Linked DNA regions of Homo sapiens. The protein of the gene in region 1 purifies or fractionates together with the protein of each later gene. This does not show direct contact. Each region holds a gene or a part of one and is shown on either strand. Other genes may lie near its edges.

Region 1 (4,865 bases):
GTGGAGAACACACATGAGATGATCAGCAAATGATAATGGTAATGCATAAAAAACAGCTGAAGAGTTCAATGCTACAATTATAAAAGGAGAAAAGAGACACATGAAGATGGAAATAAGAGAGGGGCTTCATGGGACTTGAATGTGGAACATAGATGCTGAAGATGATAAGGAATGGCTGAACATATAACAAGGAACAAAAGTGAAAATGGCATCAGCGGTATGTGTGTGAATATATCTCCAAAACAAGAAAAACAAGGACGTGAACTGGGATCCAGAACTTGGGAAGGTTTTAATGCCTAGTGACAAAGAAGAACAATATTGAAAACACAACTCATCCACTTCCCTTCAATTCCAATGAGATTCTCTTTCTCAACTTTTGTTAATGGAAGATGATTCCTTTGTATCCTGTAGTCTTATTCACCTTGTGTGTATGAAGATGATCCCTGATGTCATCAGTATGCTGGTTAGCAGACTTATGAGAAGGCATGAAATTGATGAAGAAGCTTGCTGAACTACCATTAGCAAAAGCCAGTGACACTAGAACATTTCACCCACTTGGCAAATACAATTTATGTGGTTCTCTTACCTAATTCATGAGGCAACTCATGACAGAACACAGCAACAGAAGTACTTAAACCACTTGATAAGCCTTCAGTAAAAGCAGCACCTGTGTAAAAATCAATCAGAAAAAGTTTGGCTACATTAATTTGTGTTTTTTAATCTTATCAGTATGCAAAATGAGGTAACAAGAAAATGGTATTTTGGCTGTGAATGAATAGAAGTTTCCCAAACCAACTCTGTATCTTCTTTGTAAGAAATCTTAGAGTACATTCCATGAGGTCTAAATTTCCCAAAGGAGCACATCGGGCATGAAAGAGAAGGGAAGGTTTTCTAGGCCTTAGAATGAGCGGATAAAGTTATACAAATCTGAGGAGTAACTGCTACCATATAAAAGGCATATTCAAGAATATAAAATAAACTGTTTAAAAGGTTTAGGAAAAAACTCTCCTGTCAAGGGTATAAACATGTTTCACTTGCCTCAGAGGAATTTACTATGTAACTAGATGTTTACATTTATTCTTTCACTGTTTCAGTGAGAAAACTCTAAGACAAATAGCCGTCCCCTTTTAAAAATCTGACATATTATACAATCAATCAATTATAAACCATGACTGTGCATATATATTTTTTTTTTTCAGAGACAGGGTTTCATTCTGTTGGCCAGGTTGGAGTATAGTGGTGAGATCATAGCTCACTAGAACCTCAAACTCCCGGGCTCAAGCGTTCCATCTACCTCAGCCTACCAGGCAGCTGGGACTACAGGTGTGTACCACCATACCTGGCTAATTTTTTTTTTTTTTATTTGTAGAGATAAGGTCTCACTATGCTGTCTAGGCTGGTCTTGAACTCCTGGGCTTAAGCGATCCTCCTGCCTTGGCCACCCAAAGTGCTGGGAATACAGACATGAGCTACCGCACCCAGCCGACTGTGCAATCGGACATTCCTCCTTTGTCTGTTTCAGCTCTGCATAATATAGTACAAGAGGAAGAGCACTCGACTCCCAGGGAGCCAAGGCCAGGCCTAGCTATAACACAGCACAGCCTCCTTGGACAAGTGGCGTCACCTTGACAGGCCTCAGCTGCCTAATTGCATGGTTCCTTCCAGCACTAAATTATTAAAATTTGTAAGTATTCTGTTATCTCCCAATTGTGGTATAACAATTTATTAGCAAAAGTTCTATAATTCTTCATAGGATAGAGACTGGTAACTGGACTTAGATGTATGAAGATTCCTTTAGCATAAAAGATGATGGAAAATATAATTTTACTTTTATAAATATTATATTATCGATAAGGGAACTTCAATGTATAGGGAGAAAAAAAAATCTCATACATGCACCATACAAATTAAAGACTGATCTTAAGACCTTGCAATTTAAGAACAGCTTTTGACAGTTACAATTTAGGTAATGGGCTAGGTACAATTCCTAGCATTTAATCATACCTAACATTTATTGAGCACTTCATTGTCAAAGTAGTAAAAGAAAAAGTAACATTTTTATAATCTTGGAAGTCACTAATATCCTCATCTAAACTAATCTATTCTTTGTTAAAATTTGACTAGGTGTTTAATGTGACATTTTCAGAATCAATCAACAAGGAACAAATATGTAGATATATACCAATTGCTAGGCCATCGCTGAAATTGTGCAGGCCATCACCCATTATCACCATCCAGGCCAGAGTGGCGACGCCGGCATCTTTCAGCTCCTCCCGAGAGTAGCGCTGGCTGTGACTGTGAGGATGGTGGTTTTGGTGGTGGTGATGATGGAGAATATGATGGTAGTCATGATGGTGGTGAATGAGATCGTCTGACTGGCCGAGTGTATCGTGGAAATGTGAATGGCATTTATTCTTGCACCCTCTGGGTACATATTCATTGTAGACTTCCTGTGGATGAGCATGAGCTATCATGACCTCTTCTTCTTCCAAGACTGCAGGCTGCTGAGAATCAAAGTGGGAGGGCTCTTGTGAGTCTGCTCGTAAATAGCCTTCAGTTCCTAGGAATAAACATAAAGGGCATGGGGACAGTTAGAAGGCTTTGTTAATGGACTTGGAGACATTTCAAACCTCATTGAAAAAGTCAACAGAAGATCTTAAAGCATGATAACTCCTTCATATCTGCAGAACTAAATATTAAAGTATTACTGATGAAAAACATCAAAAGATTTTAATGAATTCCAGAAATGGAATGGTCTCAAATATTAAGAATGGATTTTAAATGTTAACCTTCAATAACTACCTCTCAGATGCTCCCTCAATTTCTTCTGCCTCCCTACCTTTTTAAAAATGACTTTTTTCCTCATCCTAAGAGAAGAACCTGCTTGTTTTAGAAAACATGTTATGTTATTTAAAATATTTATTTTAGAAAAATATCTTAGAGAAGTAATGAAAATTAGAAATAAAAAAACATGCATAATCCTGCCATCTGACTTCCTCTTTTTTGGAAGGCAAAATTCAAGGAAAAAACAGAGAATCCGAATTATTTCATCATCACCAAGAAGCATTTATTATCTATCTGTGCAAAGGAAAATAAATTGCCACAATAAGGTTATTTTTTTTCTCCTGTACATAGTTATCAATTTTCTTGGAACCATCCCTGACACTGCAGTCCATTTCTAGGGCAGGTATTTCCTCCCCATCATTACACATTTCACTGGAGTCCATTTAAAAAACTGAAGAGGGGGCCGGGCGTGGTGGCTCACGCCTGTAATCCCAGCACTTTGGGAGGCAGAGGTGGGCGGATCACAACGTCAGGGGATCGAGACCATCCTGGCTAACATGGTGAAACCCCGTCTCTACTAAAAATACAAAAAAAATAGCCAGGCATGGTGGCGGGTGCCTGTAGTCCCAGTTACTCGGGAGGCTGAGGCAGGAGAATGGCGTGAACCCGGGAGGCGGAGCTTGCAGTGAGCTGGGATCGCACCACTGCACTCCAGCCTGGGTGACAGAGTGAGACTCCGTCTCAAAAAAAAAAAAAAAATTAAAACAACAACAACAACAACAACAACAACAACAACCATATATCAAAACAGTGTGGTCTAGGCACAGTGGCTCATGCCTGCTGTCGTTGGGTGCTGAGGGAAGGCCTCTAAAGGAGATACCTGATTTGAGACCTGCACAACAAGAGGAGGAATGCATGTAATGGTCTCAGAGAACGGTATTCCAAGTACAAGGAATAGTGAGTGCATGGCCCGGAGACAAGCCTTATGTGCTCCCAGCGTGAAAAGAGGGCCAGTGGGGCTGGAGCACAGTGAACAATGCGGGAGAGTGGTGGGCTCAGCGGGACCTTGAAGATCATGGCAAGGAGCTGGGTTGAAAACATGAATCTTAACTCAGTCTGTCCGACAAGATATGCCAAGCAAACAGCCAAGTTTCAGGAAAAACAGGAGAAACATGGTAGATACAACCTTAGGCAAGTGATCAAAATTACCACCACCAATAAGTGACAAAGAATCATATCAGGTGGCACACCATGTGACAGAAAAGGACAAGTACCATTTTGCGGTATTCCTGCCAAAACTGATCAACCTAATCATGCAAAAATACTAAACAAACCCAAAAGTAGAGGCAACTAAATGCAATATTTGATCCTGAATTGTACTCTGGAACAATATTTTGGTGGGGGTTGGGGGAGTGTTGGCATAAAAAGCACTATTAAGGCATTTGGAAGAATAACGTCTACAGAGAATGGCACTGTATCAGTATAAATTTCCTGATTTAATAATTAAACTCTGGTTATATGAGAGAATGTCCATTTTCCTAGGAAACATAAGTATTTAGGAGTAAAGAAACATCATGTCTATAACTTACTCTCAAATGGTTTAGAAAAAAAGTGTGTGTAGCTGGCCCTTTAGTCACTAAAAAATTAAAGAAAAAGGTGTGTGTGTAGACAGAGCTAGAGAAAGACAGTGTGGTAAAATAACTGGGGAATATGAGTGAATGGGATACAGGAATTCTTTGTACGATTCTTAAACTTTTCTATGAATATGAATTTACTTCAAAATAAAAAGTTACAGAAAAAATAAATGTAAATATACAAAAACAATGTACTCACTGGCAATATTTTACAAAGTATGAGATACTGCAAAAACCAAAACCAAGGGACATGGTCCCATTTCTTCCAGATAGTCAAGTTGCCTGCAAATCATACAGCAATGAACTCCCTCCAGCCCTAAAATTTATGCATAAGAACTTACGATCATCTGTATCTACTTTCTCCTCATTTGTTGAAAGTTGAGATTCATACTTGGACAACTGCTTCTTAATCTCCACATCATCATCATTTTCAGGTTTCTTCTGATT
Region 2 (4,865 bases), on another chromosome or scaffold:
ATATTCTTTGATCTAGCAATTCTATTTCTATAAATGTAACCTACAGAAACTCATTCACATATACCTGCATATGGCCCTGAATACAACCTGAATGTCCAACTTTTTTTTTTTTTTTTGAGACCGAGTCTCGCTCTGTCGCCCAGTGGCACGATCTTGGCTCACTGCAAGCTCCACCTCCCAGGTTTTACACCATTCTCCTGCCTCAGCCTCCCGAGTAGCTGGGACTACAGGCGCCTGCCACCACACCCGGCTAATTTTTTCTATTTTTTAGTAGAGACGGGGTTTCACCGTGTTAGCCAGGATGGTCGCGATCTCCTGACCTCGTGATCTGCCCACCTCAGCCTCCCAAAGTGCTGGGATTACAGGCGTGAGCCACCGCGCCCGGCCATCCAACATTTTTAACTGAGAAAGGCAATCTATAAAACCAGATGCTTAATATAATACCACTTAGGTTTTTATGAGAGTAATCATAGTTGATACAGAGAAAAAAAAGTAGGTGGAGGAATAGACTTTTCAGTTTCTTTTTCTTTTTTTTTTTTCTTTGAGATGGAGTCTCGCCCTGTCGCCCAGGCTGGAGTGCAGTGGCTCAATCTCAGCTCACTGCAACCTCTGCCTCCTGGGTTCAAGCAATTCTTCTGCCTCAGCCTCCCAAGTAGCTGGGATTACAGGCGCCCACCACCACGCCCAGCTAATTTTTGTATTTTTAGTAGAGACAGGGTTTTGCCATGTTGACCAGGCTAGTCTCGAACTCCCGGCCTCAAGCAATCCACCCGCCTCGGCCTCCCAAAGTGCTGAGATTACAGGCGTTAGCCACCGTGCCCGGCCCTTTTTTTTTTTTTTTTGAGATGGAGTCTCACTCTATTGCCCAGGCTGGAGTGCGGTGGCGCGATCTCGGCTCATTGCAACCTCTGCCTCTTGGGTTCAAGCGATTCTCCTGCATCAGCCTCGCAAGTAGCTAGGATTACAGACGCATGCCACCAAGCCCGGCTAATTTTCTGGTATTTTTAGTAGATATCCAACGGGAAATCACCATGTTGGCCAGGCTGGTCTCGAACTCCCGGCCTCACATGATCCACCCACCTCGGCCTCCCAAACTGCTGGGATTACAGGCGTGAACCACCGCACCCAGCCACTTTCTTTTTCTATGTTTTTATATTATATGTACTTCTACAGTAAACATGTACTAGTATTACTTTTTCGTTTTTCTTTGAGACGGAGTTTCGTTCTATCAGCCAGGCTGGAGTGCAGCAGCGTGATCTTTTTTTTTGAGATGAAGTTTTGTTCTTGTTGCCCAGGCTGGAGTGCAATGGCACAATCTCAGCTCACAGCAACCTCTGCCTCCCAGGTTCAAGCGATTCTCCTGCGTCAGCCTCCTGAGTAGCTGGGATTACAGGCGTCCACCACCACACGTGACTAATTTTTGTATTTTTAGTAGAGACGGGGTTTCACCATGTTAGCCAGGCTGGTCTTGAACTCCTGACCTCAGGTGATCCACCTGAGTGGTGTGATCTTGACTCACAGCAACCTCTGCCTCCTGGGTTCAAGCAATTCTCCTGCCTCAGCCTCCCGAGTAGCTGGGATTACAGGCACCCACCACAACAGCCAGTTAATTTTGTATTTTTAGTGAAGATGGGGTTTCACCATGTTGGACAGTCTGGTCTCGAACTCCTGACTTCAAGTGATCCGCCCACCTCTGCCTCCCAAAGTGCTGGGAGGCCAAGGAAGGATTGCTTGAGGGCAGGAGTTTCACCAGCCTGGGCAATACAGTGAGACCCTGTCTCTAAAAAAAAAAAAAAAAAAAATATATATATATATATATATATATAGGCTCACGCCTGTAATCCCACCACTTTGGGAGGCAGAGGCGGGTGGATCACCTGAGGTCAGGAGTTTGAGACCAGCCTGGCCAACACGGTGAAACCTCATCTCTACTAAAAATGCAAAAATTAGCCAGGCATGGTGGTATGCCCCTGTAATCCCAGCTACTTGGGAAGCTGAGGTGGGAGAATTGCTTGAACCCAAGAGGTAGAGGCTGCAGTGAGCCAACATCACACCACTGCACTCCGGCCTAGGTGACAGAGCAAGACCCCATCTTAAAAAAAATGTTTTTTTAATTAAAATAATAAATAAAAATTTAAATGTTCATAGAATTAGGCCGGGCACAGTGGCTCACACCTGTCATCCCAACACTTTGGGAGGCCAAGGCGGGTGGATCACCTGAGGTCGGGAGTTCGAGACCAGTCTGACCAACATGCTGAAACCCCCGTCTCTATTAAAAATATAAGGCTGGGCACGGTGGCTCACACTTGTAATCCCAGCACTTTAGGAGGCTGAGGCAGGTGGATCACAAGGTCAGGAGATCAAGACCATCCTGGCTAACACGGTGAAACCCCGTCTCTACTAAAAAATACAAAAAATTAGCCGGGTATGTTGGCGGGCACCTGTAGTCCCAGCTACTCGGGAGGCTAAGGCAGGAGAATGGCATGAACCCAGGAGACGGAGCTTGCAGTGAGCCGAGATCGCGCCACTGCACTCCAGCCTGGGTGACAATGCAAGACTCCGTTTCAAAAACAAAACAAAACAAAACAAAATTAGCCGGGCATGCTGGCACACGCCTGTAATCCCAGCTATTCAGGAGGCTGAGGCAGGAGAATCACTTGAACCTGGGAGGCAGAGGGTGCGGTGAGCTGAGATCATGCCATTGCACTCCAGCCTGGGCAACAAGAGCGAAACTCTGTCTCAAAAAAAAAAAAAAAAAACAGGTCTAGAATTTACAATTTCAACTTTGTGCCCCAACTTGGGCCCACTCGCTCACCTTCATCAGTTGCGGATCATCCCCTAGCACAGCACGAGTCACCTGGTGATAGTACTTGAGAAGGTCATCTGTCAGTGAAGACACAGCACTGGGCACTGCCAGAGGACAGGCAGGAAGCAGGGACAGGTGGAGAGCTGGCCCTCTCCTGGCCTCTCCAGCCTCCTCCCCCTCAACCACCATCCCCACACACATCCACAAGAAGCCTTTCTGACAGGACAACCAGGGCAAGAGACTGCTCTTAGAGCCTGCTCAGCCCTGACCATCTAGGCTCTGCACACCTCTGTGCTCTGTCCTGTCTTCCACCCACCCTCTGCCAGACGGACTCCTGAGAGCTTCAGGCTCTGTGAAGCTCTGCTCAGCATACCCTGGGGGTGAAACACCGCCCCAGCATGCTGCCCAGACTTCTGTCTTAGCATCCAACATGCTGCATTATGACTAGTTACAGGTCTGGGCCCCCATCTCCAACTCTGAGCCCTCCATGCAGAGCCCAGCGCCCACTCAGACCATGGCACAAGGCAGGCATGGGTAAACACATGTTAGACGCAGACTCGGGGGCACATAGGCACCACCCTCAGAACCTAAGGGAGAAAATTCATCCAAAGAGCCTGTTTCCTACATCACCCCTTACCCGATCCTTGAGGTGCCAGGTTCCCTTTGCCATCCAGGTAGGAGACATGAACTAGAAGCAGTGCAGAGAGATGTGTCAGCCTGGCGTTTTGCCCCTTAGAGTACCGCCTACCCCTCCAAGTTCTGCCTCTTCCACCAGCCAGCCCATCACCACTTCTCTTCACGGCCCAACTCCCATCCCCAACCCATGCAGGACCCCGGCAGCCACCTCTGACAGCTGTCTCAGCACAGCCTTTGGGGATGTTGGTAGCCAGGGCCAGCTCCACCAGGTTCACCTCTCGATCCTCAGGAAAGTAGAGTTCACCCTCCCTGGCGGGGCGCATGGGCAGTGCCTCCTGTGATCCGTAACCACACACAGCCTGAGGAAAAAGGGAATTGGAGAGCAGCCTGAATCCAGGGAGGGAGCAGGCGTCAGGATCCAGGATGAGGCTCCACTGACCAGAGCAGAGAGCCCACGTTTGAAGGAAGTCCAGAAGTCCCAAGAAAAGTGGTGGAAGCCTGGGACTCAGAGCCACCACTGGGGACTTGCCTGGAGCATCCGGGGCTCCCTGGGTCAAGGGAAAGAACATGGTCGCTCCTCCCATAACTGGAAGGGTCCTGAGCCCCACACCAAGCACTGGTCCTCCTTATTCACACTCACTCAACTTTGAAAACTCACTAATGTCTTCTAAACATAGCCTTCCTCTCTCAACTCACCGCTCCAGAAAAACCACACCATGAGGCCCTAACACCCACACTGTTGCTCAGGCTCCTCCCTTAGCCTGAATGCCTTCTTTTCCTCTTGGCCTAGTTTAAGCCAAGCTCAAGTTCTTCACCACCCTTTAAGGGCCAGCTCCAGTCCCACCTCCTCCAAAAAGCTTTCTCTAACCTCTGGGCCTCCAGTGGCCTCCTCTCCCTCTTTTCTGAACACATAGCCCAGGTGGGCTGGGCCTAGCACCTGGTCTGCTGTTGCTATCAGGGTCTTGCTTCCCTTATGTGTGCGTTTAGTCTTTTTTTCTTTTTTTTGTTTTGAGACAGAGTTTTGCTCTTTCGCCCAGGCTGGAATGCAGTGGCGTGATCTCGGCTCACTGCAACCTACGCCTTCCAGTTTCAAGCGATTCTCCTGCCTCAGCCTCCCAGGTAGTTGGGATTACAGGTGCCCACCACCACACCCAGCTAATTTTTGTGTTTTTTTGGTTGTTTTTTTTTTTGACATGGAGTCCTGCTCTGTCACCCAGGCTGGAGTACAGTGGCACAATCTCAGCTCACTGCAACCTCTGCCTCCCAGGTTCACGCGATTCTCCTGCCTCAGCATCCTGAGTAACTGGGGTTACAGGCGCCCACCGCCACGGCCAGCTAATTTTTGTATTTTTAGTAGAAACGAGGTTTCACCATGTTGGGCAGGTTGGTCTCAAACTCCTGACTTCGTGATCCGCCGGCCTCC

The links. The genes of interacting proteins can lie anywhere in the genome.
Region 2: the proteins of SLC39A6 (region 1) and TAF6L purify together in Homo sapiens (affinity purification with mass spectrometry; one large-scale study listed by BioGRID and IntAct). This does not show direct contact.

Annotation. Positions count from the first base shown.
Region 1 is NC_000018.10:36,111,915-36,116,779, forward strand, and holds part of SLC39A6 (zinc transporter ZIP6 isoform 1 precursor), read right to left. Parts: coding exon 4,760-4,865; intron 2,561-4,759; coding exon 2,183-2,560; intron 668-2,182; coding exon 587-667; intron 1-586. UniProt on the Homo sapiens protein: Zinc-influx transporter which plays a role in zinc homeostasis and in the induction of epithelial-to-mesenchymal transition (EMT).
Region 2 is NC_000011.10:62,776,914-62,781,778, reverse strand, and holds part of TAF6L (TAF6-like RNA polymerase II p300/CBP-associated factor-associated factor 65 kDa subunit 6L), read right to left. Parts: intron 3,802-4,865; coding exon 3,651-3,801; intron 3,495-3,650; coding exon 3,444-3,494; intron 2,911-3,443; coding exon 2,816-2,910; intron 1-2,815. UniProt on the Homo sapiens protein: Functions as a component of the PCAF complex. The PCAF complex is capable of efficiently acetylating histones in a nucleosomal context. The PCAF complex could be considered as the human version of the yeast SAGA complex.